7 linked regions of the Homo sapiens genome follow. The protein of the gene in region 7 interacts with the protein of the main gene of each other region in a pairwise test. Each region holds a gene or a part of one and is shown on either strand. Other genes may lie near its edges.

Region 1 (3,500 bases), on a different chromosome or scaffold from region 7:
ACTCAGTGACCACAAGGGCTCGCAGAACCTATGAGTTTACAGCAGCCTATGATGGAGGAAGCATAGGTTTACCTCTGGTTTACAGAAGTTTGTGAAAGGGGATGAACCACCCAGGCAGGCCAGCACCAGCCACCAGGACCAGGGGCTCCCCTGCTGTGGAACACAGGGGTGCACTGACCTGGAGCTGGAGAAATGAAGAGGTGTTGGTGTCAATTGTTAGGGAAGCAGATTCTTCTATGCTAAATGCCAGGCTTGAAACGTGGCCATATGCCACCCATCCATCTGTTCCAGGTGGAATCTGTGTGTCCATGGCCACACAGAGGCTGACTTTGGTAATCCACTCTGGAGATACTCAGGAGTGGGGCAGTGTGTCCAGTGGTTCTGGCCATCCTAATGGTTCAGGTTTCCTTTGCAATTTATGCTGATACTTTAGGAGCACTTGACACCTGGGACCAACTCACAATGATGAGGTCATCAGAGGGCTGGTCAGTAACCTGAGAGATGACCTGAGAGCTGGTGCATATTCTTCCAGTACAAATCCAATCATGGCGACCCATTGCTGAAGAAAAGGCAAAACTCCTTCACAGGCTCTGGCCCCTTCCTGCCTCTCCAGCTCCTCCCACACCAGCTCCCCTCCCTCTCAAGATCCCACCACATTGGTCATGTTTCAGTTCCTCCTACTTTTCATGCTCCTTCCTGCCACAGGGCCTTGGCACATGCTTCTCCTATGTAGGAGACTCCTCTGTCCCTTTTTCATCCAGTTACCTCCTCAGCATTCTTCAGAGCTCTGCTCAAAAGCCATCCTGCCCCCACCATTATACACTACAGCACACTATCAACTTGTCTTGGTTACCATCTTACATTCCTTCCAGTGATTGCCTGAAGAATGCTGCTCTTCCCATCTAGACTGTAAGCTCTATGAGGGCAGGAACTACATTTGTTTTTTCTGAGGGCCTCCCTATACAGTGCCTGGAACCTAAGGAGTTTAGTTAACATTTATTGAATGCATAAGTAAAAGTGCCCCTCTGGCCCAGAGCTGCAGCCTGAAGATAACCTGGACAACTTGGCCTCATCTGGGTGAGGGTGTTGTATTGGTAAATGGGCATCATCCTAAAGACTTCTCTTGCCCACTGGACTGACATGGGGTTGGCAACCGCAGCAATATAGACAGTGGCAATTATGAGCTTATATTTCTGTATAGTACAATTTAAATACATTGGATTATTTCCAATAGGCAGCTGTTAGGGGGTTAACAGCAGTTAACACTTTCAGCTCTAGTCAGAATTGTTTGCTCATAAACATAAATCAAGGACCTTTTTTTTTTTTTTTTTGAGACAGTCTCACTCTGTCGCCCAGGAGTGCAGTGGCGTGATGATCTCGGTTCACTGCAACCTCCAACTCCCAGGTTCAAGCAATTCTCCTGCCTCAGCCTCCTGAGTAGCTGGAATTACAGGCACCTGCCACCACACTCGGTTAATTTTTGCATTTTTAGTAGAGACGGGGTTTCACCATGTTGGCTAGGCTGATCTCGAACTCCTGACCTCAAGTGACCCACCCGCCTCAGCCTCCCAAAGTGCTGGAATTACAGGCATGAGCCATTGCACCTGGCTGAATTGACGGCCTTCTATGGGCCCAGTACTGTACTAAGAATAGCGGTACTCAGCCCCTGACCTCAGAGACATTATGATCCTAACAGACGGACAGAGACACACTGGATTCTACTGCATGCACACTCCATGATGCAGTGTTAACCATATGCCAAGCACAGTGCTGGGTGCCTGGGAAACCAGAATGAGGGACTTGGAGAGGAGACAGCCACAAACACAAGAAGTAGCAATGAAGTGAGAAAAGCAGACCAGAGACTGTGGGAGGGAATGCAGAGGGGGAGCCAGCACTCCTGGCTATGCTGCTGTTAAATGTGGGTCAGAGGACAGGAGCGCAAGAGTGAGTTAAACCTTCCAGCTTTGAAAGGGATGCCTGGTGCTTGGGCCTGGGTGTCCTAGCCCCATTCTGACTGCAGCTCTGCTTCCTTGTACAGGTCTGTTGTGGGCATCCCGACCTGCGAGTCCGTGGTGCAGCTGCAGCCGGGGCGGAGCTACATTATCTATGTGCGAGCCCTCAATATGGGGGGCCCCAGCGTGAGGAGCGAGCCAGCTACAGTCCACACCATAGGTCTGTGCCCCAGCCCACAAAGTCTCTGGGACCCAAAGTGGCCACTCTGTGGCAGACCCAGTGCTGCTATGACTTCACTGGGAAATTGATGAATATGCACAGATGTGGACACGTGGCAAGTCAGGCCAGAAGGAGTTCAGGGGTGTCCCATACTGCCCTAATTGCAAGTCAAATGGATCATTAAGAAGTCCTTCAATTCCTATTTCCCTTGGCAAATAGGTTAGAAATTCTTATCCATACACAGGCATTACAGCTAGAGGTAAAGAGCACAGCCTCTGGAATCAGAGGGGCTTGGGGTTCAAGTTTAAGTTCTATCATTTGCCAGCTGATTTCTTAACCACCTTGTGCCTCTGTTTCCTCATCTACAAAATGGAAATAGTGACACCTGTTTCTAAGGGTCGTCGTGAGGATTGAAGGGGATACTAGGCACACAAGACTGCCCGATGAGTGTCAATTGCCATCCTTGTTAACTGGACGCCTATTACTAGGCCAGGTCCAGGCTTAGGTGTATCCCACACGAAGCTAAACCGGTGACCACCGCCCACATGGAGAAAGCAAGTGATTGGCTGCGGGTCTTCTGTGTGTTCCTCCTCCCACAGGAAGCTACTTTCGCCTAAACAAGGACACTTGCCATCCCTGGCTGACCATTTCTGAAGACGGACTTACGGCTGTACGAAGTGAAAGGAGAACCCCCGCCAGGGAGCTGTCACCCAGCGACACTCACTTCACCAGGTACTTTGTCAACCGCTCACAAGGGCGTTCTGTGAACTTCCCGAAGGTGCACTGTTATTCAGGTCAAATCCGAATATGGCACGGAGGCAGCCTCGAGGGAAAAGGAATCCTACAAATGAGTGAGGAGGGAGGAGCCTAATGGGGAGGGGACCCAGAGGAGTGTGGGCAAGAGGGGTCAGGCAGGTGCAGGCAGAAGAGCCCCCTGGGACGGTGAGGTCAGGAGAGGGCGCGGTCCCCTGGGAGGGCATGGTCCCTGGGTCCTAGGCTGCCAGAGCTGGAGCAGCCAGAGGTCATGAGGGTGGGACAGGAATTACTAGTGGAGGGTGTCCAAGTTCTTGGCGTTCTGAACAAAGAATTGGACAAAATGCACAAACAAAGCAAGGAAAGAGGCCAGGCACGGTGGCTCATGCCTGTAATCACAGCACTTTGGGAAGCCGAGGCAGGCAGATCACCTGAGGTCAGGAGTTTGAGACCAGCTTGGTCAACATGCTGAAACCCCATCTCTACTAAAAATATAAAAATTAGCCGGGCCTGTTGCGGGTGCCTGTAATCCCAGCTACTCGGGAGGCTGAGGCAGAAGAATTGCTTGAACCCGC
Region 2 (3,500 bases), on a different chromosome or scaffold from region 7:
ACTTAGCTGTTGATGACCATCATGACTTGTACAGGAATCTAATTGGCTCTGTGTTACTTCCTCTGAATTCAGTTTTATGTTACTAATTCCATCAAGTATTTCACTATGATCCTTATCACTTGTACCAGAGCTATCATTATCAACCATAATAGGTGAAGATGGAAAAGATACTAAGTCAACTTTCATGCATTTTTCATCGTTCTTGTCATCAGCTTCTGTTTTAGATGTGTAAGTATCTGTATCACAGCTTTGCGAGGCATCAAAAGTCCAACCCTGAGCTTCCCAATACTGAAATTGTTCCAAATAATACCAATAAAGTTGACTATAATGTTGCTCCCATTCTTCCTTTGTATCAGGAAAGTTCCAAGGTTCAGAAGATAGTGCTTGACCCGGATGTTTTTCTTGCCAACTTTGCCACAATAGTCCTCCTCCATATTCATTCCAATACTTTTCCCATTTCTCTGTAATTTCTAGCTTTGGAGATAATGTGTTTTCAACTGGAGGATTTTCTGTCTCAGTATCTTTTTTGCTTTGAAGTTCATATGTTCTGGTGTTCTCATACTGTTCAATTGAAGATGGATCATCTGAAGCCAAAATGTCGTCTTCTTCATATTCTTTTCTCCAAGATTCTTGCACAATTTCATCTAAGTATTTCTTTTGATGTTTTTTCTTTTTTATTTTAACTTTATTTCTAGTATTCATAGATACCTATATCAGATAAATAACTTGAATATAAAATGCACTTTATGAACTATAAAAGAAAGTAGAATCCAAGTCTATTTTGACATTAAATTAAACAAAATACTCTAAAGCCCCACTATGGGCTTTTAGCTCCACAAACAAGTGATATACTATCTAAGTTTCCAAGAGGAGGAACAGTCACACTTGGGACATATTACAACTTTCAGTTCTGGTTAATTTATAAATACATACATTTAAAAAGAGGTAGAGAGCGCTGATCGTGAATGCATATAATCTGATAAAAAGTAATTCCTTGCGATATTTTATAAAGAAAACGAAGAGAGAGAAATAATAAAAGTAAATTAATATTTACCTCAAAATCCTTATGTGCAGTTATCCTACCAAATTGAAGTGGCAATCCCATACTTCTCATGAGTTCAGCCTCAGAATCAAGTTCACTTTCATCCAGGCCTATGCCTTTGCTGTCATGTGATTCTGCAGTACCACAGGAATAACCACCTTCCTCTTCTTCTGTCGCCTGGTCTCCTATAGACACCATTTATTAGCTTAGTTTTAAGGAAAACTTAAGAGGCAGGTTTTCTTATTCTCATTTAAAAAAACCTGAGATCCAGAGTGACCCGCCCAAAATAAAGGTATGCAAATGTTACAATTTTTTTTATTTTTTAGAGATGGGGGTCTCACAACACTGCCCAGGTTGGAGTATAAGGGCTATCTGCAGGTGTGATCATAATGCACTAAAAAGCTCTGAACTCCCGGGCTCAGTCAGTCCTCTTGCCTCAGCCTCACAAGCAGCTAGGATTACAGTTGCATGCCACCTTGCCTGGCCTGCAAAGTTACAATTTTTAAAGGAAAAAAGAAAACAAACAAACAAAAAAACAATTGACGGTATGCTGGGCACGGTGGCTCACACCTGTAATCCCAGCACTTTCGGAGGCTGAGGCAGGCGGATCACTTGAGGTCAGGAGTTTGAGACCAGCCTGGCCAACATGGTGAAAACCCGTCTCTACCAAAAATATAAAAATTAGCTGGGCCCAGGCTGTAATTCCAGCTACTCAGGAGGCTGAGGCAGGATAATTGTTTGAACCTGGGAGACAGAGGTTGCAGTGAGCCAAGATTGTGCCACTGCACCCCAGCCTGGGTGAGAGAGCGAGACTCTGTCTCAAAAAAAAAACAAAAAACAAAAAACAAAAAACACCAATTGACAGTAATATGGAGTAGTAACAAAAAAAGCCAATGAAGAATCAACGGAAGAATCAATTTCTTATTGGGCTCTGCCTGCCACTATTCATCCAGCTGCCCATTTAACTTACTCTTATTGAGCATCTGCTCTATGTTGGGCACTGTGCAAAATACTGAGGATGGAAGGAAGACAGAACAGGCCATGTAACCCTGGTACGTGGAGAAAATACTTATATGTTCACATTCTTTATCTGCAAAATTACTGAACTAAGACAGTGAATTTAAAAATCATGATTTGTGAAGTTATTTTAGGAGGTATTAACAAGAGCGGGTGAGAAGCATGTCTTCATGCCCCTCACAGACACTTCAATACAACTGGGATTTAGGTTCCGGGATTCTGTGGAAGAGCTGATTTAACAAAAGGATTCTGCTATTAGAAGTTTGAAATCCTGGGGTTGGGCACAGTGGCTTATGGCTCTAATCCCAGCATTTTGAGAGGCTGCTTGAGGCCAGGAGTTTGAGATAAGCCCGAGCAACACAGCAAGACCCTGTCACTACAAACAAAACCAAAAACCAAAAAACAAACTACCCTGGTGTGGTGGTGCCTGTAGTTCCTGCTACTTGGGAGGCTGAGGTGAGAGGAATGCTTAAGCGATCACCACTCAGACAACAGAGCAAGACCCTCTCTCTCTCTCAAAAAGAGAAAGGTTTGAAATCCCCTAAACTGGAAGATTTTTTTCAAGCTCTCTGAATCTAATTCTTATAGAAAAACCATTTATTACAACAAAGTAAGTTTTACTTTACACCAATATGGTTATCTAATAGTAATTATACCATTAATTGAACATATGCCATTCAAGTGCTCTATTAACTTTAAAATGTGAGATAACAAAAAATCATTTTATGTATTAGCACACTCAATTAGCATTGGGCTGCACTCCAGCTTGATGGTCTCAGGCAACAGAACAGTAAATCTTATATAGCCAAAATGAAGACTGATAAAGAGAAATCTCTTGTGTGCAAATTCTGCTACAAGAGGGAGAAAGATACCTTTCTAAATAATGAAGGGGATTCCACTCACTACTCCATTCAAATATACTTACGAAAGCTCAGGAGACAGCAAAATGGAGAAAATGAGTAAGCTAAGTTTTATGTTCCTTTCATTGTATGCATATTTTCTTATGCTCGAGGAGCCTAGTGTTATAGGAACTTTATTTGTATAGCATAGCACTGAAACACAAACCAAACATTCCATCCAGTGATCAACTGAAGAAACAGTAATTTGTTCCATCGCCATGAGAGTTAAAGGGTTTCCGAAGGTAACTATGACACTGTACTTGGGCTGACTTTGGCTTCTAACTCCACGCTGTAATTTTCTCTGTGTCTAGGAACACAAAAGGTCTATGTGGAAGGACAAATGCAGTAGGGAAGTTTGAGACATCAAAGTGAGGCTCAATGTACAGTATAAATTATATTTGTTACTTGGGAAAGTTAACCAAGATGACAGTCTCTTTACTTCAGGCAAAAGACTATAGATGTTCACCTGGAATTTTTATCCCGTAGCATTTTTTTATCCTGCAGCATTTACCTACATAATACACTTCTCATGAAGTGTATTA
Region 3 (3,500 bases), on a different chromosome or scaffold from region 7:
TGACTGATTCATTTTGGAAATCATGGGCCAAGCCACTATTACCCAAACTGATGAGCTCAATCCCTGAGTACCTTTAAGTGATGAGGAACATTGAGAAAATACATAAGCCACTGTGCCCCAATTTAATTACATAGTTCATACAACATGGCTACAGAGACGAATGATATTCTAGTAATAAGTTACTGGGTTTGTAGCAATATGTAAGTAAATATCAGAGCCACACCAGAGAGCACAACAAGTTGCATTTATTGTTTCTGACAAGTGCATAGTAATTTTCAGTTTGCTCATGTTCCTAGCATCACAAATCTGAGTTACAATTTTGCTTCTCAATGAAAAACATATACTCTGAAAAGTGATTAGGAAGTTCTAAAAATTTTAATCATTTATAGAGTATCTTAAAAATCCTTATCAAGTAAGATATTAACTTTACCTTTATAAATCTTTGTGTGAAATGAAAAAAAAATCAAGGCATACAAATTTCATTGTGTTCTACATTTTTAAATACCATCCTTTGTCTCCGTTAAAAGATTTTCATCCATTTATTCAAAAACCTTTTAAGTTCAACTGTCCAATTTAAGACAGAGTGAAGACATTTTTGAGTATCTGAACTAAGCATTGTCTTGACTGAAACGAAGTAAGAACTCAATGAGAGTCCTTGTGGGCCTCCCAGTCATGCCTTTCCGTAGATAGGGAACTTCATCTTTGTTGGTCATCACGCCTGCTATGTCTAAATGTGCCCACTTAGGATGAGTTACGAATTCTTTCAGGAATGCTGCAGCTGTACATGCTCCTGCAGATCTGAAGAGAAAGACAAAAAGCACTTTACAACCCCATGTAAATGTGCACTGAGATCCCACATTTTTGCTAAGTACATTCTATAACCAAAGAACAAGAGTCAAGCTTGTAAGACCTATTAAGATGCTAACCCACATATCAGTTTCAGAATATTTATTTTCAGATATTGCTTTAAGCAGTAAAGGATAAATTCTATATTCCTTTTTGCTATGGTAATGAATTCCCATATTTTCCATCTCTTTCCCTTACCATTTATTGAAAATTACCATTAGATTAGAAATATGCAAATTTTGAAATCTGGTTGAAGAAATACTTGAAAATTCAAGACATTAAAAATCTTACAAGCACTACACCAAAAGGAAATTAAATAGTTAAACCTTTTATATAAGGGGATAAAATTGAAAATAGCTATTTTGGCAATCAAGGATGATTGTATAAATGTACATTTAGCTTAGCTTACATACCTGTATTTTCCAATGTTGTTAACATCAGCAAGCTGGCAATCTACAACCTGTCTTGTATAATGTTCGAAGAGAGGCATCCTCCAGACACGGTCCCCTGTTTCAATGCTGGCCTAGAGAACAGGTATGACAGGTGGAAGAGTGGATGAGGCAGGTTGTGGGAAATTCATGGCATTAACATGCTCAATGCATGAAGGAAGAGTTGTTCTAACCTGTTACTCTAAAACATGAAACTAGAAAATAGGTTTCAGAATTGTGTCCACTCATTAAAAGATTTATTTTAGAACTATAAAAGAAACCAGGAGGCTGGGGACAGTGGCTCACGCCTATAATCCCAGCACTTTGGGAGGCCGAGGCGGGTGGATCACGAGGTCAAGAAATCGAGACCATCCTGGCCAACATGGTGAAACGCTGTCTCTACTAAAAATGCAAAAAATTAGCTGGGCGTGGTGGTGCGCGCCTGTAGTCCCAGCTACTCCGGAGGCTGAGGCAGGAGAATTGCTTGAACCCAGGACGGGGAGGTTGCAGGGAGCCAACGGAGTGCCACGGCACTCCAGCCTGGCGACAGAGCGAGGCTCCGTCTCAAAAATAAATAAATAAATAAAAAATAAAAAGAAACCGGGAATGCTGTGAAGCAATTTCACAAATCTGTAGGGCATTTTGCTAAAATCATCAAACTACAATTACAGGCTTTGTGGGTTGATGAGGGTGAAAGAGTTCTTATGTGGCGGGTCACTTCTATGTGACAGAAACACACGACTGGACCTGTATCACTGAAATCCTGAGACAGGATGACCACATTCATTCATTCATCACTTACCCACTCACTCATTCATCGTTTACTGAACTACTGAGCACCACCAGGTGTGCTGAAATACTACCATCTGAGCCACCCAAGGGCCTACAGGCTAGTAGGAGAAACAGATACATAAACAGATTATTTAACTCACTGGTAAAAAATCAAAGACCTAAAAGTGAAAAATCAAGAAGCAGCAATATAAGCTGTTATTTTAAGACATAAGTAAATACCAGATGAATCAGCCAAGGGTTGAAAGTGGCTGCCTTCTGGAAAACAGACTGTGGGCTGCTGATTGTTGATTTATGCACATATAACTGAGATTTTTTTTTTAAAGCTTAAATGTTTTTTAAAAGTCAAAACAACAATATTGTGGGTGCCATGAAAGAGAGGGATAACGGTTATGTGGGAGGCCAGAGGAGAGGTTCCTGGCCCGGCCTGGAAGAAGATGATGGGGCTGAGTATTGCAGAACTGGGAAAATTGGGCTTCGTGAATGATGACATATATGAAGGAGAAGCAGTTTAGAGTGAAAATAAGTTTAGACCTTAAACCACCCTCAGGATTATATTTGGGGACATTTTATGTTTGTCTCCCCTCCCACTGGCACAGAGTAAGCTCCCATTAATTACTAGTTGAATGAATGAGTAAGCAGCCAGCTGGAGCTGTCTAGCAGCCACATGGGTACACAGAGGCTGGGACTCGGGAGAGAGATGGGAGCCATCAGGCAACATGTGTTGGCTGGAGCTTCCATGTGAGGAATGTGTAGAGTAGGAAGAGCCTATGGCCTTGAATTGAACACCAGCCAAAGGGCGGCCAAAGGGAACAAACACGTCAGGAGACAGGAGCAGGAGAATCACAGGAGGCAGCCCAAGAAAGGATTATCACAGAAGCTGAACCAGGTGTCAGGAGGCCACAGAGTCACCTGCTGCCTCAAGACAGGCTGAGTTAGGCTAACAGTGGTGTGGACATTCGAAAACCAATGGCAGTAAGTGAGGGTGTGTGTGTGTGTGTGTGTGTGTGTGTGTGGAAGTGAGGGTGACTGCTGGGAAGAGGCTGGCTGTGAAGGGCATGGAGGGAGGCACAGAGCACAGCGGTCTGAAGACATCCTCATCGATGCAGGGTGAACTCCCTTATATGACTCACGACACGCAGTCACAAACGCTGCTCCACAAAGCCATCTTCAAAACCATTTCTACCTCAGGGATTCTAAAACTATGACCACAGTGTTCGTGAGATATTTTCACAGGACGCTGAGGCTACCGGAGGGGAGCAGGGGGCATCATCCCCTCCTTTAGGAGCATTTGTGGAAAACCCAATGCCACTGAACTCAATCTATTGCTGTGGTTCATTTTCAATTCAAAGGCAAACCTGCGGCATAAAAATCACTTTAACACAGGGTTGAAGAAGTCTATCCTTCTAAGGCTAGAATAATTTATTCACCATCTCT
Region 4 (3,994 bases), on a different chromosome or scaffold from region 7:
GCTGGGACTACAGGTGCGGCCACCATGTTCAGCTAATTTTTGTATTTTTAGTAGAGAAGGGGTTTCACCATGTTGGCCAGGATGGTCTCGATCTCTTGACCTCGTGGTCTGCCCGCCTTGGCCTTCCAAAGTGCTAGGATTACAGGCGTGAGCCACTGCACCCAGCCAGTTTATTTTTATCATAGTGGTCTTCACCAACTAGAAGGACTTCTTGACCCATTAATAGGTCACAATCCACAGTTTGTGGATCCCTTACTCCCATCCAGCCTCCCAGGTCTTGGTTGATGAACGGGCCAAGTTTTTCCTCCCCAGGTTCCAGCCTCATCAGCCTCCTCCTGAGAAATCCTGATTAGCCCAGATCCCCTATGCTAGCGCTTGGTGGACATTTGGAATAAATGATTCCCCCACCAAGGTCTTTTGTAGACTGAAGAGTCTGGGTATTAATGTCATATGTGCTTTAGATTGTCCTAATGAATTAATATTTCAGATTCACTTACTGCAAATGCTGGTACTGAAGCAAGCACAGAAGGCCGCTAGGCACTGGCTACATGCTGAACATCTCCTCCTCCTGATGTTCACAACAGCTCTGCTGGATGGATGTTAGCCCCATTTGGCAAACAAGGGGCTGAGGGTCCCTGATCTGTTTTTTTTTTTGTTTTGTTTTGTTTTTTTTATGGAGCCTTGCTCTGTCTCCCAGACCCCTGGCTGGAGTGCAGTGGCACAATCTTGGCTCACTGCGACCTCCACCTCCCAGGTTCAAAGGATTCTTCCGCCTCAGCCTCTTGAGTAGCTGGGACAACAGGTGCGTGCCACCACATCCAGCTAATTTTTGTATTTTTAGTAGAGACGAGGTTTCACCATGTTGGCCAGGCTGGTCTCAAACTCCTGACTTCAAGTGATGCATCCGCCTCAGCCTCTCAAAGTGCTGGGATTACAGGCGTGGGCTACCCCATCTGGCCTCCGATCTTAATTAAGTTGTCTAAGACCATAAATCTCTAAGTGGCAGAACTTGGATCTGAGTTTGGGCTTCTAGTCCAAGATTCCCAGTATACCATGAAGTTTCCTACGAGCATCCATCACTTTAGCCATACCTGCTTGCTTACGGGCACTTTGGGGAATGGACACCACATCCCTCTCACATACTCAAGACCAGCTATGTAGTCTGTGGAGCCCAGTGCAAATTGAAGTACCCTGAGCCCCTTATTCAAAAATTCTGAATTTGAAGATAGTAACAGAAAAGCATTAAACTAAGCACAGGCCCCTTGTAAGTGCAGGGCTATTTGTGACTGCACAGGTCATTCACCCATGTGGTGGGTGACCTGCAAGTAATTCCCTCAGCCCACATCACCCTGTACCACCACCCCTTCACTGGCTAACTCCTTTCCTTCCTTGGAGACTCAGCTCAAATATCACTTCCTCCAAGAAGCCTCCTTCAACTGCACCCAGTCTCAAGCTATACTAAGCCCCTCTGGTCCCTCAAGGCATCCTGTCCTGGCACTTACCAGACCATGCTATATCATTCTGGTTATTGCATGATCCCCATCCTTTCACCCCTGACCTCCACATGCCAGACTGGGAGCTCCTTAAAGGCAGGGACTGTGCTTTCCAGCTCTGCGTTCCCAGAACTTAAACACTGGGACAGACACCTTGCAGGTGCTCAAAGAGTTTTGTGGAATGAAGTAGAGGAAAACCAGACTTGGTGAGGAGGAACAGCAAAACCCAGTCCGAAGGAAGGCAGGCTACTGGGGAGCAGTCAGGTAGATGAAGGTACCAAAGAGAGAGGGTTGAGGAAGAGGAGCCATGGGTGTGTCAGGGATTTGGTGATGGTGAGGACCACAGCCAGTCAAGGCAGGATAAGGAGCACTGTCAACAAACTGACTAATCCAAGAAGGCCTCCTGGAGTGGGAGCTCCATATGCCTCCAAGAAGTGATTTGGGGCTCAGGAATACATAAATAGATCCAACCTGCCCACACGCTCTTCTCTGGGAGTCAAGGAACTGGGTTGTGACAAGTCAGGGAAGTATAGATTCTTTGTCTCTCTGCCCAGCCCTCGGCTCCAGCCTTTCTTAGAAACTATAGGCATGGTGGCTCAAGCCTATAATCCCAACACTGTGGGAGGCTGAGGCGGGAGGATCGCTTGAGCCCGGAAGTTCAAGACCAGCCTGGGCAACACGGTGAAACCCCGTTTCTACCAAAAAAAAAAATTTATATATATATATATATATATATATATATATATATATATATATATATATATGAAAATTAGCCAGGTGTGGTGGTGGCGCGTCAATAGTCCCAGCTACTTGGGAGGTGGAGGTGGGAAGATCACTTGAGCTCAAGAATTCAAGGCTGCAGTGAGCCGAGATTGCACCACTGCACTCCAGCCTGGGTGACAAAGCAAGATCCTGTCAAAAAAAAAAAAAAAAAGGAAGGAAGGAAGGAAGGGAGGAAGGAAGGGAGGAAGGAAGGGAGGGAGGGAGGGAGGGAGGGAGGGACCAGATTTGTGACTTACAGTAGGTTGATGGTATCATCCTCCAAGAAGTTGACCAAATTGCCCTTTGAGGCTAGTGGGAGTCCTTTGGTAGTGACGGTCCGGTTCATAGACTTGGGGTTTGAAAAGGGTTTTGGCAGTTGGTCAAGGGCATTCATCATGTTGAAGTTTTCTTTCTTCAGTACAGCCTCCTCCCCATCTCCCACTTGATGGAGTGCCTCTGATGCCATCTGATTTGTTCGGGATGACACCCGTCACCATGCAGGACAACCCAGCTGACCAGAAGCAGAGAGAAACTGTGGGGGCAGTGGCCCACCTTTAGTTTGGACAGTCTGCAGGTGCAATGAGCTGACTTCATAATCATCACAGAGTGTAACAATTACAGGCCAGCCTCCCCCCTTGATTTGAGGCTACTGCTGCCAGGCTAGCTATGTGGCTGGCCAGACCAAGGGCCAGTGTGACTGTGAAGCAGCATCATGAGAGGGGTAAAACCAAGGAACAGACTGCATGAGCCCTTGGGCCCCTTCCAGCTCTAATACTCCATGGTGATGGCAGCCCTGCCCTTCTCTGAAGATCTCAAAATGCCTGACACCTGTGTCCTTCCGCACTGCCCTGGGAAGGAGAATAAGGATGGTGAGAGATGGGCGTGGGATGTAGAGGATGGTGGTGTGGCCCTGAGAGATAGGCAGTATTGGAAAGTGTCTGCTGGGGAGGGAAACTTTGTCCGTAGAAGCTAAGGCTCTCTATCCTGAAACCATAGGCTGCAGACTCCACTGTGCCCAGTCGGTTAGTGAAAGGGAAAGCCCACATGGTTCATAGGGGTTCATGGCTCACATATGATCAGACTTCACTGCTAGAATTCTAAATGTGCCACACCCACACTCCCAAGTACTTTCCTGTGTGGAGTGACAATGGTGGCAGTTGCAGTGGGATACAGAGATGGGCCACACATGATCTCTGCTCTCAGAGAAACCACCTTACAGTAGGAAAACATGTACACAGCTTCAGGGGTGGGGAGGGGGGCTGTTAGAAAGCACTGGCTTTGCAGAGTCAGATGTGGATGTGAAGTCCAGCCCTGTGCCGCCTAGCTGGGTGACCTTTGGCAAGTGATTTAACCTCACTGAACCTCAGTTTCTTCATTGGTGAAACAGGGATAAAAAATAGCGCCTCCCTCACAGATTTGTGATGAGATAACCATGTAAAGTTTTATTTCTTCCTATGGATGAGGCAAAGCAAAGGACATTTAAAAATACCAAATCATATCTTTTTGTGTGTGTTCTATATAACCAAGGTTTCTTGCCCTTAAAAAAAATAAAAAATAAAATAAAAAATAGAGGCCGGGCACGGTGGCTCACACCTGTAATCCCCGCACTTCGGGAGACCAAGGCAGGAGGATTGTTTGAGCCCAGTAGTTCGAGACCTGTGTGGGCAACATGGTGTAACCCCATTTTGTAGAGGCGAAACCTCTACAAAAAATACAAAAATTAGCTGGGCAAGGTGGCA
Region 5 (3,500 bases), on a different chromosome or scaffold from region 7:
CTTTAAAACTGGCTTTTATCGGGGCCAGGCGCGGTAGCTCACGCCTGTAATCCCAGCACTTTGGAAGGCCGAGGCGGGTGGATCACCTGAGGTCGGGAGTTCAAGACCAGCCTGACCAGGGTTTAGTAGAAACCCTGTCTCTACTAAAAATACAAAATTAGCTGGGTGTGGTGGCGCATGCCTGTAATCCCAGCTACTCGGGAGGCTGAGGCAGGAGAATCGCTTGAACCCGAGAGGCGGAGGTTGTGGTGAGCCAAGATCACGCCATTACACTCCAGCCTGGGCAACAAGAGCAAAACTCTGTCTCAAAACAAACAAAAAAACTGGTTTTTATGAGACTCATACAATAGGGGCAGAACTCCCAGATAAATAAATCAAAAAAGGAAGTGGACCAGGTGCGGTGGCTCATGCTTGTAGTTCTAGCACTTTGGAGGCAAGAGGATCACTTGAAGCCAGGAGTTCAAGACCAGCCTAGGCAACATAGCAAGACTCTGTCTCTACAAAAAATAAAATGGAAAAAAAAAAAGTGGTTATATGTGATGGGTTCATAAGTTTGGGGAAGATCTGCCAGAAATGGAGAAACGGTGATTTGTTTGTTTAGAGGAATCCTTGGGAGTTTGATGGCCTCCTGGTTCGAAAACTCCAGGTTAGGAATAGAGGAAGGATGAGAAGACTGGAATCCCTGTTAGGAAACTCAGATATGAGTAACCAAGAAGTTCGCTATTGGAAACAAAGGAAGACAACTTCACCTACTTTGGGACATAGACATTTTGATATACGCTTGGATATACACACACATCGTTTTCTCATTCCAAACATTCATTGAGTATTTACTATAAGATATGTTACCGGAAGGTATATCAATGAATGCTATTCTTCAGGAGTCTAAAGGAAGTATAATATAACTCTACTATATGGCAGAAAGTTTTATGGTCTATAAAAGGATGTGAATGCCCTGGCCCTGTGGCTCACACCTATCTATAATCCAAGCACTTTGGGAGGCCAAGGTGGAAGGATCGCTTGAGGCCAGGAGTTCAGGACCAGCCTGACCAACGTGGTAGTCTAAAAATACAAAAAAAGAATTAGCCAGCTGTGGTGGCGCACACTTGTAATTTTAGCTACTCAGAAGACTGAGGTGGGAGGATCGCTTGAGTCCAGGAGGTTGAGGCTGCAATGAGCTCTGATCATGCCACTACACTCCAGCCTGGGTGACAGAGTAAGAATCTGTCTCTAAAAAATAAACAAAAGGACCGGAAAAGTCGAGGGGTGCGGTGGCTCACGCCTGTAATCCCAGCACTTTGGGAGGCCGAGGTGGATGGATCACCTGAGGTCAGGAGTTTGAGACCAGCCTGACCAACCTGGAGAAACCCCATCTCTACTAAAAATACAAAATTAGCCAAGTGTGGTAGTGTGGGCCTATAGTCCCAGCTACTTAGGAGGCTGAGGCAGGAGAATCGCTTGAACCCAGGAGGCAGAGGCTGCAGTGACACAAGATCATGCCACTGCACTCCAGCCTGGGTGACAGAGCGAGACTCTGTCTCAAAAAAAATTTTTTTTTTTAAAAAAAGGACGTGAGTAACATGCCTTAGAGGTTGGGAGGGAGGAAAGGCTGTTTCCTACTGGGGAAATCAGAAAAGGTTTCAAGGAGGAGGTAACATCTGAGCTGGGCTTTTGCTTGCAGAATGCGGACCCAGAATGATTGGAGAGCAAGAAGAGCAATCCACATAGAAGAAGCACAGAGCAAAGACGGTGGCCGAGGACCAGTGGGAATTTATTGCGAATGTTCAATAGTGACTGAGTGGTTAAGTGGTTCCAGAGATTACAGGGCCAATGCCTTAGAACACATGAGTTTTTTCCAGAATTACGTTATCCATGCACACACACCATTTGTCTGTGTAGAGCACACTGAGGAGTACTTACTTAATTTAAGTATTGTATTTTGACCAAGGAAGGGGGGCAGAGTAATGGTGGTGACAGATGGAGTTGCACCGAGGAGACATGGCTTGGGGCAGGGAGGAAGGAGGTAGAGGATCCTGGTTAGGTCCAGGCTAGGGAGAGAGGTGCCCTTTCTCCCTCCCTCCCTCTCCCATCAGGGCAGAGCAGAAAGGAGAGCAGGTGAAGTGAGTGCAGGCAGGGTTGTTAATGAAAGTGTGTCCCTGGGAGGCCTCTCACCTTGCAGTTGACCAGAAGAGCTGGAATCTCTGTCCTGCTGGTCTTCCTCCTGCTCTCCTGGCCATGAATCAGGTCCTGCATCCGGGGAGGCTCCCCCTGAAGCCAATTCGGGTTTCCCTCCACCAGGCGTCTTTGGATCACACTGCGCGGCTGCTGGCTCCATCACAAAACAATGAAGGTAGGCAGTTCTAAACCCAGGCATCCAGGCTGCTCAGTTACCCCACTTAGATACCCCAGGATGCTCCCCCCACCCCCCCAGCCCTGAGCCTTACCCTAGGAGTTTACCCTAGGGTCCCAGATAATGAGAGCAGAGTAAGCCCCAGTATCAAATCATGCCGTTTTCCTTGGACACCCATAGATTGCTCAGCAGTGAAGAAATGGGAAGAGGAGAATGGTCCATTCTCTGTTAAACTGACTTAGTAGCCGAAGGGACATTTCAGGAATTAGTATGCTTGGGGGAAGTTTTGTCTCAAACTTACATTTTTTTTTAACTAGGAGGGTTTTTTTTTTCTTCCCCTCTGACCTCATCCTTCAATGGGCTTCAGATCCCAGGGTTGATGGTATGATGAAAAACAGTAAGAAACTCAAGAACTAGGCCAGGCGTGGTGGCTCACATCTGTACTCCCAGCACTTTGGGAGGCCGAGGTGGGTGGATCACTTGAGGTCAGGAGTTCGAGACCAGCCTGGCCAACATGGTGAAACCCTATTTCTACTAAAAATACAAAAATTAGCTAGATGTATTGGCATGTGCCTGTAGTCCCAGCTACTCGGGAGGCTGAAGTGTGATAGTCACCTGAACCTAGAAGGCAGAGGTTGCAATGAGCCAAGATCACACCACTGCACTCCAGTCTGGTTGACAGAGCAAGACTCTGTCTCAAAAAAAAAAACCAAACAAAAAAAACTCTTAAGAACTAGGATGCTGGGAGTCATCTTTGACCTGTCCCTCATCTACAACCACTCCCATTCCATCCAGTCACTTCCCAAATTCTATAAGTTTTGCCTCCTGTGTAGAATCAATCTGTCCCTCCTTTCCTTCTCTCTCTTCTTTCTTTTCTTTCTTTTTCTTTTCTTTCAAGATGGGATCTTGCTATGCTGCCCAGACTGGACTCTAATTCCTTGGCTCAAGGCATTCTCTAGCCTCAGCCTCCTGAGCAGCTGGGACCAAAAGCATATGCCACAGTACCTGGCCTCCATCCTTCCTTTCTGTTACTGCCTGTGTTCCAGACTCCCCACAGCTCTCTCGGATCCTTGGAACACCTTCTTAAGTTCATAACCTGTCTCCAGACCTGTTACCTTTCAAATACATCTGCTTGGAGCTTCAGCCTGGA
Region 6 (3,500 bases), on a different chromosome or scaffold from region 7:
GCTCCCCCAGGCCGGCTGGACCCCCAGGAGGTACTTCCGGGCACAGTCCACCAGATGCTCGTGCTCCACGCCCACGCCGGCCAGCACCATGCGGTCGGGAGTGTAGTAGTTCCTCAGGTAGGAATGCAGCACCTCTCGGTTGATCTTTGCTACGTTTTCTGTGGGGCAGAAACGGTGGAGGCCAACTGTGTTCTCCCTGTAAGCCGCCTAATGGGGAAGAGCCACAGACACAGGTGACTGAAGACAGCATGACCAGGCTTCCTCCAACAAGCAGCACCAGCGCCCATCTGCAGCCAGCCCTGGGAAAATCCGACGCAAGCTGATATTTTACTTGCACTCTGGCAATAGCAGCTGCGTGCGTATTTATAAAGAGTAAAATCTGCCTCTCCAGAATACAAATTCACAAAAAGCCTAAGATTAATTGTGTTTAGTAGTAAAGACCTAGTTACTATAAAAACTGGAAAATACGAACATTGTATAAACAGCAGACTCAGAAATCAAGAATGTTCTAAGCTGAGTGCGGTGACTCACGCCTGTAATCCCAGCTACTTGGGAGGCAGAGGCAGGAGGATCACCTGAGCTGAGCCCAGGAGTGCAAGACCAGCGTAGGCAATGTGGAGAAACCTCATCTCAAAAAACAAAAAAATGTTCTGTATATATCCATAACCTGCAAGGACAACATCACGGAGGCACCCTCCCCACCACCCCTGGTGTCCCGAGGACCACTGTTCGAGATGCGGGGGCATTCTCGAGTTTGACATTTTACTTCATGAATCATCTCGGTGAGAAGTGGCTCTGGGTCAGGCCGCAGGTTCAGGTCCTCCAGCTCAAACTGGACCGCCATCCGCGTCATCTCGACTTCTTCATCTGCAAGAGAACCCAAAGGCCAGGGCTGAGTCTGCACAGGCAGAGATGAGGAACACAGCAGTGACCCACAGCTTGTGTGCTGGCCTGAGTGTCGCCTGTTGGTGGCTGTTGGCAGTCACCTCTGCCTTCATCTAGGGGCAGACTGGGTGCTTGTGTGAGTGAGGGGGACTGCTACAGGGAGCAGGAGCTAGGGGACCTGGGCCTCACATCCCGCCTCAGCCATGAAGCAGCCACGTGAGCCTGCTAAGCCCTGGCTTCCTTGCTGGTGAAAGGCACCGAAGACACTGGACCTGTCTGTCCCAAGTGCTGCTGTGAGGACACGAGACCAGACATGAAGGTGCTTAGAAACAGAGGCACACGCTGGGTGCGGTGGCTCACGCCTGTAATCCCAGCACTTTGGGAGGCCGAGGTGGGTGGATCACCTGAGGTCAGGAGTTCAAGACCAGCCTGGCCAGCACTGTGAAACCCCATCTCTACTAAAAATACAAAAATTAACTGGGCGCGGTGGCGGGCGCCTGTAATCCCAGCTACTCAGGAGGCTGAGGCAGGAGAATCACTTGAACCTGGGAGGTGGAGGTTGCAGTGAGCCGAGATCGCGCCACTGCATTCCAGCCTGGGTGACAGAGACAGACTCTATCTCCAAAAAGAAACAGAGGCACAGACAGATGTCAAGGGCGCCTTTCATCAGTTGTGACCACAAGATCTTAACGTGGGACTGTAGCCTTTGAACACCAAGCGCAAGCTGCTGTGAAACTGCACCCTTAGGGTATCTGGAAAAGCCAACGTTCCCCTCTCCTGGTCCACCCCTGACAGGGACTCAAAGTCCTGCCATCTGCAAGGCTGAGGAGGGTAATGGAAACAGTGAAATGGAAATTTCTGGCACACACCATTCCACTTGTTTAAAGACGGTCCGAGGTGCCCTTCCGAAATCAAAGAACCAATTTCGCTAAAAACATCCCACAGGGATGAGGGCACAGATGTCTCAAATACACATTCTCTCAAACACTAAGGACTTTTACAATCACCAGTGGGTTTTTTTTCCTTTTTGTGGAGAACAGAGTCTTGCTATGTTGCTCAGACTGGTCTCGAACTCCTGGGCTGAAGTGATCCTCCCATCTCTACATCCCTAAATGCCGGGATTACAGGCGTGAGCCAGCACGCCTGGCTACTAGCACTATTTCTTTTTCCTTTCTTTCTTTTTTTGAGACAAAGCCTCACTCTGTTGCCCAGGCTGGAGGGCAGTGGCACAATCATGGCTCACTGCAGCCTCAACCTCCCAGGCTCAAACGATCTTCCTACCTCAGCCTCCCGAGTAGCTAGGACTCTAAGTGTAAGCAACCACAGCCAGCTAATTCTTGTATCTTTTTTGTAGAGACAGGGTTTCACCATGTTGCCCAGGCTGGTCTCAAACTCCTGGGCTCAAGCGATTTGCCTGCCTGAGCCTCCCAAAGTCCTGGGATTCCAGGTGTGAGCCACCATGCCCAGCCCCAGCGCTATTTCTTATGAGATCTCGCTGTCACTTTGTGTTGGCCTAAAGCTCCAATTACATGGTGCTCTCCCTCATGGCTACAGGGCTTCTGCAAACCTTTCCGGTCTTCCCTATGTCCAAGCCCACCTCAAACGCCAGCGGCTGGGATCCACACCTGTTAGCCGGGGCTGCAGAACCACATCAGCCAGTAAGGCAACCACCGTGTCCAAGCCTTTGCTATCAGCAGACACAGCATACATGGTGGTGTCTCTGGAAGAAAACACAAGCCCATAATGCCAGGCCCTGAACTCACACTCTGCTTAACAGCCAGGGGACGCTCGGGCTTTGCGTGCCAGGTGGACAATGCCAGGCCCTGAGCTCACACTCTGCTCAACAGCCAGGGGACACTTGGGCTTTGCATGCCAGGGGCACCTACCTTTTGTTGGGGCCCAGCAGACATTTCAGGGACGCTTGGGCTTTGCGTGCCAGGGGACACCTCCTACCCTTCATCGGGGAACAGCAGACACTTTTCCCCTTTCTCTTTTCCTGTCTTACAGTGTGAATGCTTGGTAGGCAGGACTCACAGCTACACACAGCTTGAGTCAAAATGGAGCCACTTCTGATACAGATTTTTGTAACTATACTCTCTCTCAAAAGGTGAAGTGTTTCATCCCAGCCTCCTGTTGACTGAACGAACCCACTGGTGAGTGTGGAAACATGCCCGGCCTTGGCTGGCTTGGGGGACAGCAATGGCTGGCTCGTATGGAGCTTGTCTCACTGTAACATCTGTTCCCGGCATGAGGCACTGCACAGTCAGAAGTGCACAGAGCTGGCCCATGGGACAGGCACGAAATCATGGGGTGCTCTGAGATCAAGTGTGATCAAGGGAGACCATGCAGAGCAGACGCAACAGCCACGAAGAAGAGGGAGCTTGGGAGGCAGGACGCAGTCACCAGTGCCTCTGAAGAGGGGACTTGGCTGGACCTTCACCCTGAAGAGGAGCCATTCTCAGTGACTTTGGCTCTCCACATGGGGAGAATGGCAAGAACAAAAGCCTGAGCTGAGGGCGAGGGGGGCTGGGTCTGAGTCAGGACACCAGCCACCTGGCCAGAGAAAGGAGTTCATCTGGGATGAGTGAGATTCGAGGCAAGAGTCGGAGAATCAA
Region 7 (3,500 bases):
GATAAAGACCAAAATCCTCACCCTGACACTCAAACCCAGAGTGCACCAGCCCTGTCTTTCTCTCTCCAGTTTCCTCCTGCTCATTCTGCCTTCACTCCCAGGGCTCTAGCTCCTAGCAGTTCCTGGAATGTGCTGTTCTTTCTTCCCCCCAGCTCTAGGCCTGCACATGCTATTCCTTCTGCCTGAAGTACTGAACCCTCCCTGCCATCCCTCTTCCCCCAGCTAAGTCTACCTCATTCTTTACCTCTCAGCTCAAGCATCACTACCTCAGAGAAGCCCTCCCTGAGCCTGATCTCTGTTTGTAATGATCAGTTCATCACTGATGGCTTGTTTCACTTCTGTTTCCCCCTCTAGACTCTAGGAGAGCGGGGACTGTGTCTGACTTTGTTCTGTCTTGTATACTGCACACCTAACACAACGCCAGGCATGCAACAGTCACTCAAGAAACCACCTGCGGAAGGAATAAATTGTTATTCTTCAGCACCTTAGGAGCTTCATTCTAAAATATTAGTTTTTTTTCCTGGTCTTGGATGATATCCTCGGGTCCTATTTAAAGCCCTAAGACTTTGTGGCTGTGCTGGAGCCAAGGCCACCATCAAAGTCCACGTCACTGATCTCCAAGGCTCACCTCCCAGTTGCAGACATAGCTGCTCCTGTGGTCTGCACCAGGGAAGGTGGGCAAGGCTGCTAATCCAGGTGAGCATGTGTGTACCATGGAGATGACAGCTCCCATGTCTACACCCCAGTTGTGTGCCATCCCATCCTCCAGTCCTGCCACCCCATCCTCCAGTCCTGCCTCCCATCCTTCCCCGAGTTGTGATGATGGTGACCCTACCTCTGGGTGTGCGGTGTATGTAAGCCATGCTGCCATCTTCCAGCTGCACAGGCTGACCATCCTCAAAGGAGAGAGCTTCTGTAACGAGAGCAATGCCTGCCTTTCCCTGGAGCTCAGTGCCATGGAGGGGTCCCTTGGTGGGGGCTGTCAGGCTTCCCTCGACAAGGCATGGTGTGTTGGGGTGCCCTCACCTTTCTGTACCGTCACCTGGTGAATGTATGCGGTGGTCCCATCCTCGAGCTGGATCACCTGCCCTTCAAGAAGCTTCTCTCCTGTTAAGAGTGGAAATAGAGAGAAATGGGCCAGGACCAGAAGAGGGCTAAGAAACGCCTGCCTGTTTTTAGCTGAGGCTTATTTGAGTCTCTAGGCACGAGCCTGCAGGTCTAAGCATGGGTAACATCTTCCTTGTTCCCTTGCTCTGTCTCCCTGGGCCTGGGCCTTGAGACACTAAGGGTGAAGACACTTGCCTTGCCGAACCCATCACCTCCCAACAGATTCCCTTCCAGTTACTAACAGGAGGAATAACTTCACTTATTATTCTACCCATGCCCAGCCAAGTGGAAACTTCCAACCTAATAGTAAGTTGCTGAGACTTGAACTAATGGCCCTTAAACCTGGATGAGCCCCAGTGGGTCAAAATTCAGATATAGCTCAAACTAACAAAATCAAAACATATCCCCTCATCCCTCACTATGACAGTGTGCTAAGACCAGGAGCCCCTGTGAAGGCAGGATATATAGCTTAATGGTTAAAAACAATAGACTCTGGAACCAGGCCAGGCCTCCAGAGTTTGAATTCCAGCTCTACCTCTTAACAGCTGTGTGACCTTGGACAGCTTATTTAACTAACCTCTCTGTGCCTCAGTTTCCTTTTCTTAAAATGGGGATTGAAAACTGTGTCTCTTATAGGGTTGCTGTTAGGGTTAAATGAGTTAACGAATATAAAAAACTGGGAAGAGTGCCAGGTATATATGGTCAGCCCTCAATAAATCCTAGCTTTTATTATAAGCCCAATATGCATTTTAGAAGAAATGGAAAGTAAAGCAATAGAGAACTATGTGAGCACAACTATTATGCTATTATGTGTCCATGAAGGTCTTATTCCACTGCCACTGTTGAGTAATGTTCCTTCATTGACCTCTCATTTTTCATTTCAATTTTCTAGTAAAAAATTAGATCACCTAAGGCAACACAACAAGCAGCATAAAAATTAACAAGCCTCCAGATTTCCTAAGATATTACTCTTCCTTTACCTTACTGGAAAGCACTTCTAATAAGGCTCTTGAAATTAGAACTAGACGACCCTTCCTTGTGTCCAGTGAGTCTGACAGAGGGGGAAGGAAGAAGAGAAATGAGAAAGGAAAGAAAGGGAGATTGAAGAGTTAATGATGGTCAGATTCGGTGGCTCATGCCTATAATCCCAACACTTTGGGAGGCCAAGGCGGGTGGATCGCTTGAGCTCAGGAGTTTGAGACCAGCCTGAGCTATGTGACAAAACCCTGTCTCTACAAAAAACACAAAAATTAACTGGATGTAGTAGTGCATGCCTGTGGTCCCAGTTACTCGGGAGGCTGAGGTGGGAGGATTGCTTGAGCCCAGGAGGCAGAAGTTGCAGTAAGCCGTGATTATGCCACTGCAGTCCAGCCTGGGTGACAGAGTAAGACCCTGTCTGAAAAAAATAAAAAATAAATAAATAAAAAGGCTGGGCACGGTGGCTTACATCTGTAATCCCAGCACTTTGGGAGGCCAAGGCGAGCAGATCACCTGAGGTCAGGAGTTTGAGACCAGCCTAACCAACATGGTGAAACCCTGTCTCTACTAAAAATACAAAAAAATTAGCTGGGTGTGGAGGCAGGTACCTGTCGTCCCAGCTACTCGGAAGGCTGAGGCAGGAGAATCACTTGAACCCGGGAGGCGGAGGTTGCAGTGAGCTGAGATTGTACCACTGCACTCTAGCCTGGGTGACAGAGTGAGGTCCTGTCTCAAAAAGAAAAAACAAAAAAGTAAGGCTGGGTGTGGTGGCTCACACTTATAATCCCAGCACTTTGGGAGGCTGAGGCAGGCGGATAACCTGAGGTCGGGAGTTCGAGACCAGTCTAGCCAACATCATGAAACCGTGTCTCTACTAAAAATACAAAAAAATTAACCAGGCGTGATGGCACATGCCTATAGTCCCAGCTACTCGGGAGGCTGAGGCAGGAGAATCGCTTGAACCCGGGAGGCGAAGGTTGCAGTGAGCCGAGATCACGCCACTGCACTCCAGCCTGGGCTACAGGGTGAGACTCCGTCTCAAAAAAAAAAAGGAAGAAAAAATAAAAAAAAAGTTAATGACAAGTGATTTGTCCTTTCCTTAGAAGATTGAGGTTTAGGAAACTGAGCGCTCAGGTGGGAAAGACAGTTACTTCCAGCCCAAGTCTCTGCTGACGTCTCCCCTTTAGAGGAATCCCCAAACTTGCTCCCAAACTGAGTCTTCTTGGGGTCAGTAACTAACAGTCCTACAACTAACCAAAGGCAGGTAAGGTGGAGATAAAGGTAAGAAATAGGAAAGGCAGCTGAGATGGGGGGAAGATGAACCCATTTTCTTCCCTCCCACCCACAGAGCAGTAGGCTACCCTCATTTTAACAATTTATCTGTCCTGGCAAGGGCATCAGTACTTGGGGTTCTG

The links.
Region 1: the proteins of ZNF76 (region 7) and FSD2 interact in binary tests that used the Homo sapiens proteins (3 or more experiments, as listed by UniProt).
Region 2: the proteins of ZNF76 (region 7) and TGS1 interact in binary tests that used the Homo sapiens proteins (3 or more experiments, as listed by UniProt).
Region 3: the proteins of ZNF76 (region 7) and LAP3 interact in binary tests that used the Homo sapiens proteins (3 or more experiments, as listed by UniProt).
Region 4: the proteins of ZNF76 (region 7) and FNDC8 interact in binary tests that used the Homo sapiens proteins (3 or more experiments, as listed by UniProt).
Region 5: the proteins of ZNF76 (region 7) and NRIP2 interact in binary tests that used the Homo sapiens proteins (3 or more experiments, as listed by UniProt).
Region 6: the proteins of ZNF76 (region 7) and PMPCA interact in binary tests that used the Homo sapiens proteins (3 or more experiments, as listed by UniProt).

The regions. Positions count from the first base shown.
Region 1 is NC_000015.10:82,764,570-82,768,069, reverse strand, and holds part of FSD2 (fibronectin type III and SPRY domain-containing protein 2), read left to right. Parts: intron 1-2,038; coding exon 2,039-2,172; intron 2,173-2,771; coding exon 2,772-2,904; intron 2,905-3,500.
Region 2 is NC_000008.11:55,783,446-55,786,945, reverse strand, and holds part of TGS1 (trimethylguanosine synthase), read right to left. Parts: intron 1,228-3,500; coding exon 1,055-1,227; intron 709-1,054; coding exon 1-708. UniProt on the Homo sapiens protein: Catalyzes the 2 serial methylation steps for the conversion of the 7-monomethylguanosine (m(7)G) caps of snRNAs and snoRNAs to a 2,2,7-trimethylguanosine (m(2,2,7)G) cap structure.
Region 3 is NC_000004.12:17,604,698-17,608,197, reverse strand, and holds the end of LAP3 (cytosol aminopeptidase), read right to left. Parts: intron 1,370-3,500; coding exon 1,260-1,369; intron 799-1,259; coding exon 609-798; 3' UTR 228-608; downstream 1-227. UniProt on the Homo sapiens protein: Cytosolic metallopeptidase that catalyzes the removal of unsubstituted N-terminal hydrophobic amino acids from various peptides.
Region 4 is NC_000017.11:35,120,421-35,124,414, reverse strand, and holds the start of FNDC8 (fibronectin type III domain-containing protein 8), read right to left. Parts: upstream 2,801-3,994; 5' UTR 2,722-2,800; coding exon 2,513-2,721; intron 1-2,512.
Region 5 is NC_000012.12:2,828,536-2,832,035, forward strand, and holds part of NRIP2 (nuclear receptor-interacting protein 2), read right to left. Parts: exon of another isoform or gene 3,249-3,500; intron 2,351-3,248; exon of another isoform or gene 2,326-2,350; coding exon 2,173-2,325; exon of another isoform or gene 1,682-2,172; intron 1-1,681. UniProt on the Homo sapiens protein: Down-regulates transcriptional activation by nuclear receptors such as NR1F2.
Region 6 is NC_000009.12:136,413,658-136,417,157, reverse strand, and holds part of PMPCA (mitochondrial-processing peptidase subunit alpha isoform 1 precursor), read right to left. Parts: intron 2,606-3,500; coding exon 2,511-2,605; exon of another isoform or gene 2,483-2,510; intron 868-2,482; coding exon 767-867; intron 208-766; coding exon 1-207. UniProt on the Homo sapiens protein: Substrate recognition and binding subunit of the essential mitochondrial processing protease (MPP), which cleaves the mitochondrial sequence off newly imported precursors proteins.
Region 7 is NC_000006.12:35,283,735-35,287,234, reverse strand, and holds part of ZNF76 (zinc finger protein 76), read right to left. Parts: intron 1,110-3,500; exon of another isoform or gene 1,108-1,109; coding exon 1,027-1,107; intron 914-1,026; coding exon 836-913; intron 805-835; exon of another isoform or gene 261-804; coding exon of another isoform or gene 245-260; intron 1-244. UniProt on the Homo sapiens protein: May be involved in transcriptional regulation.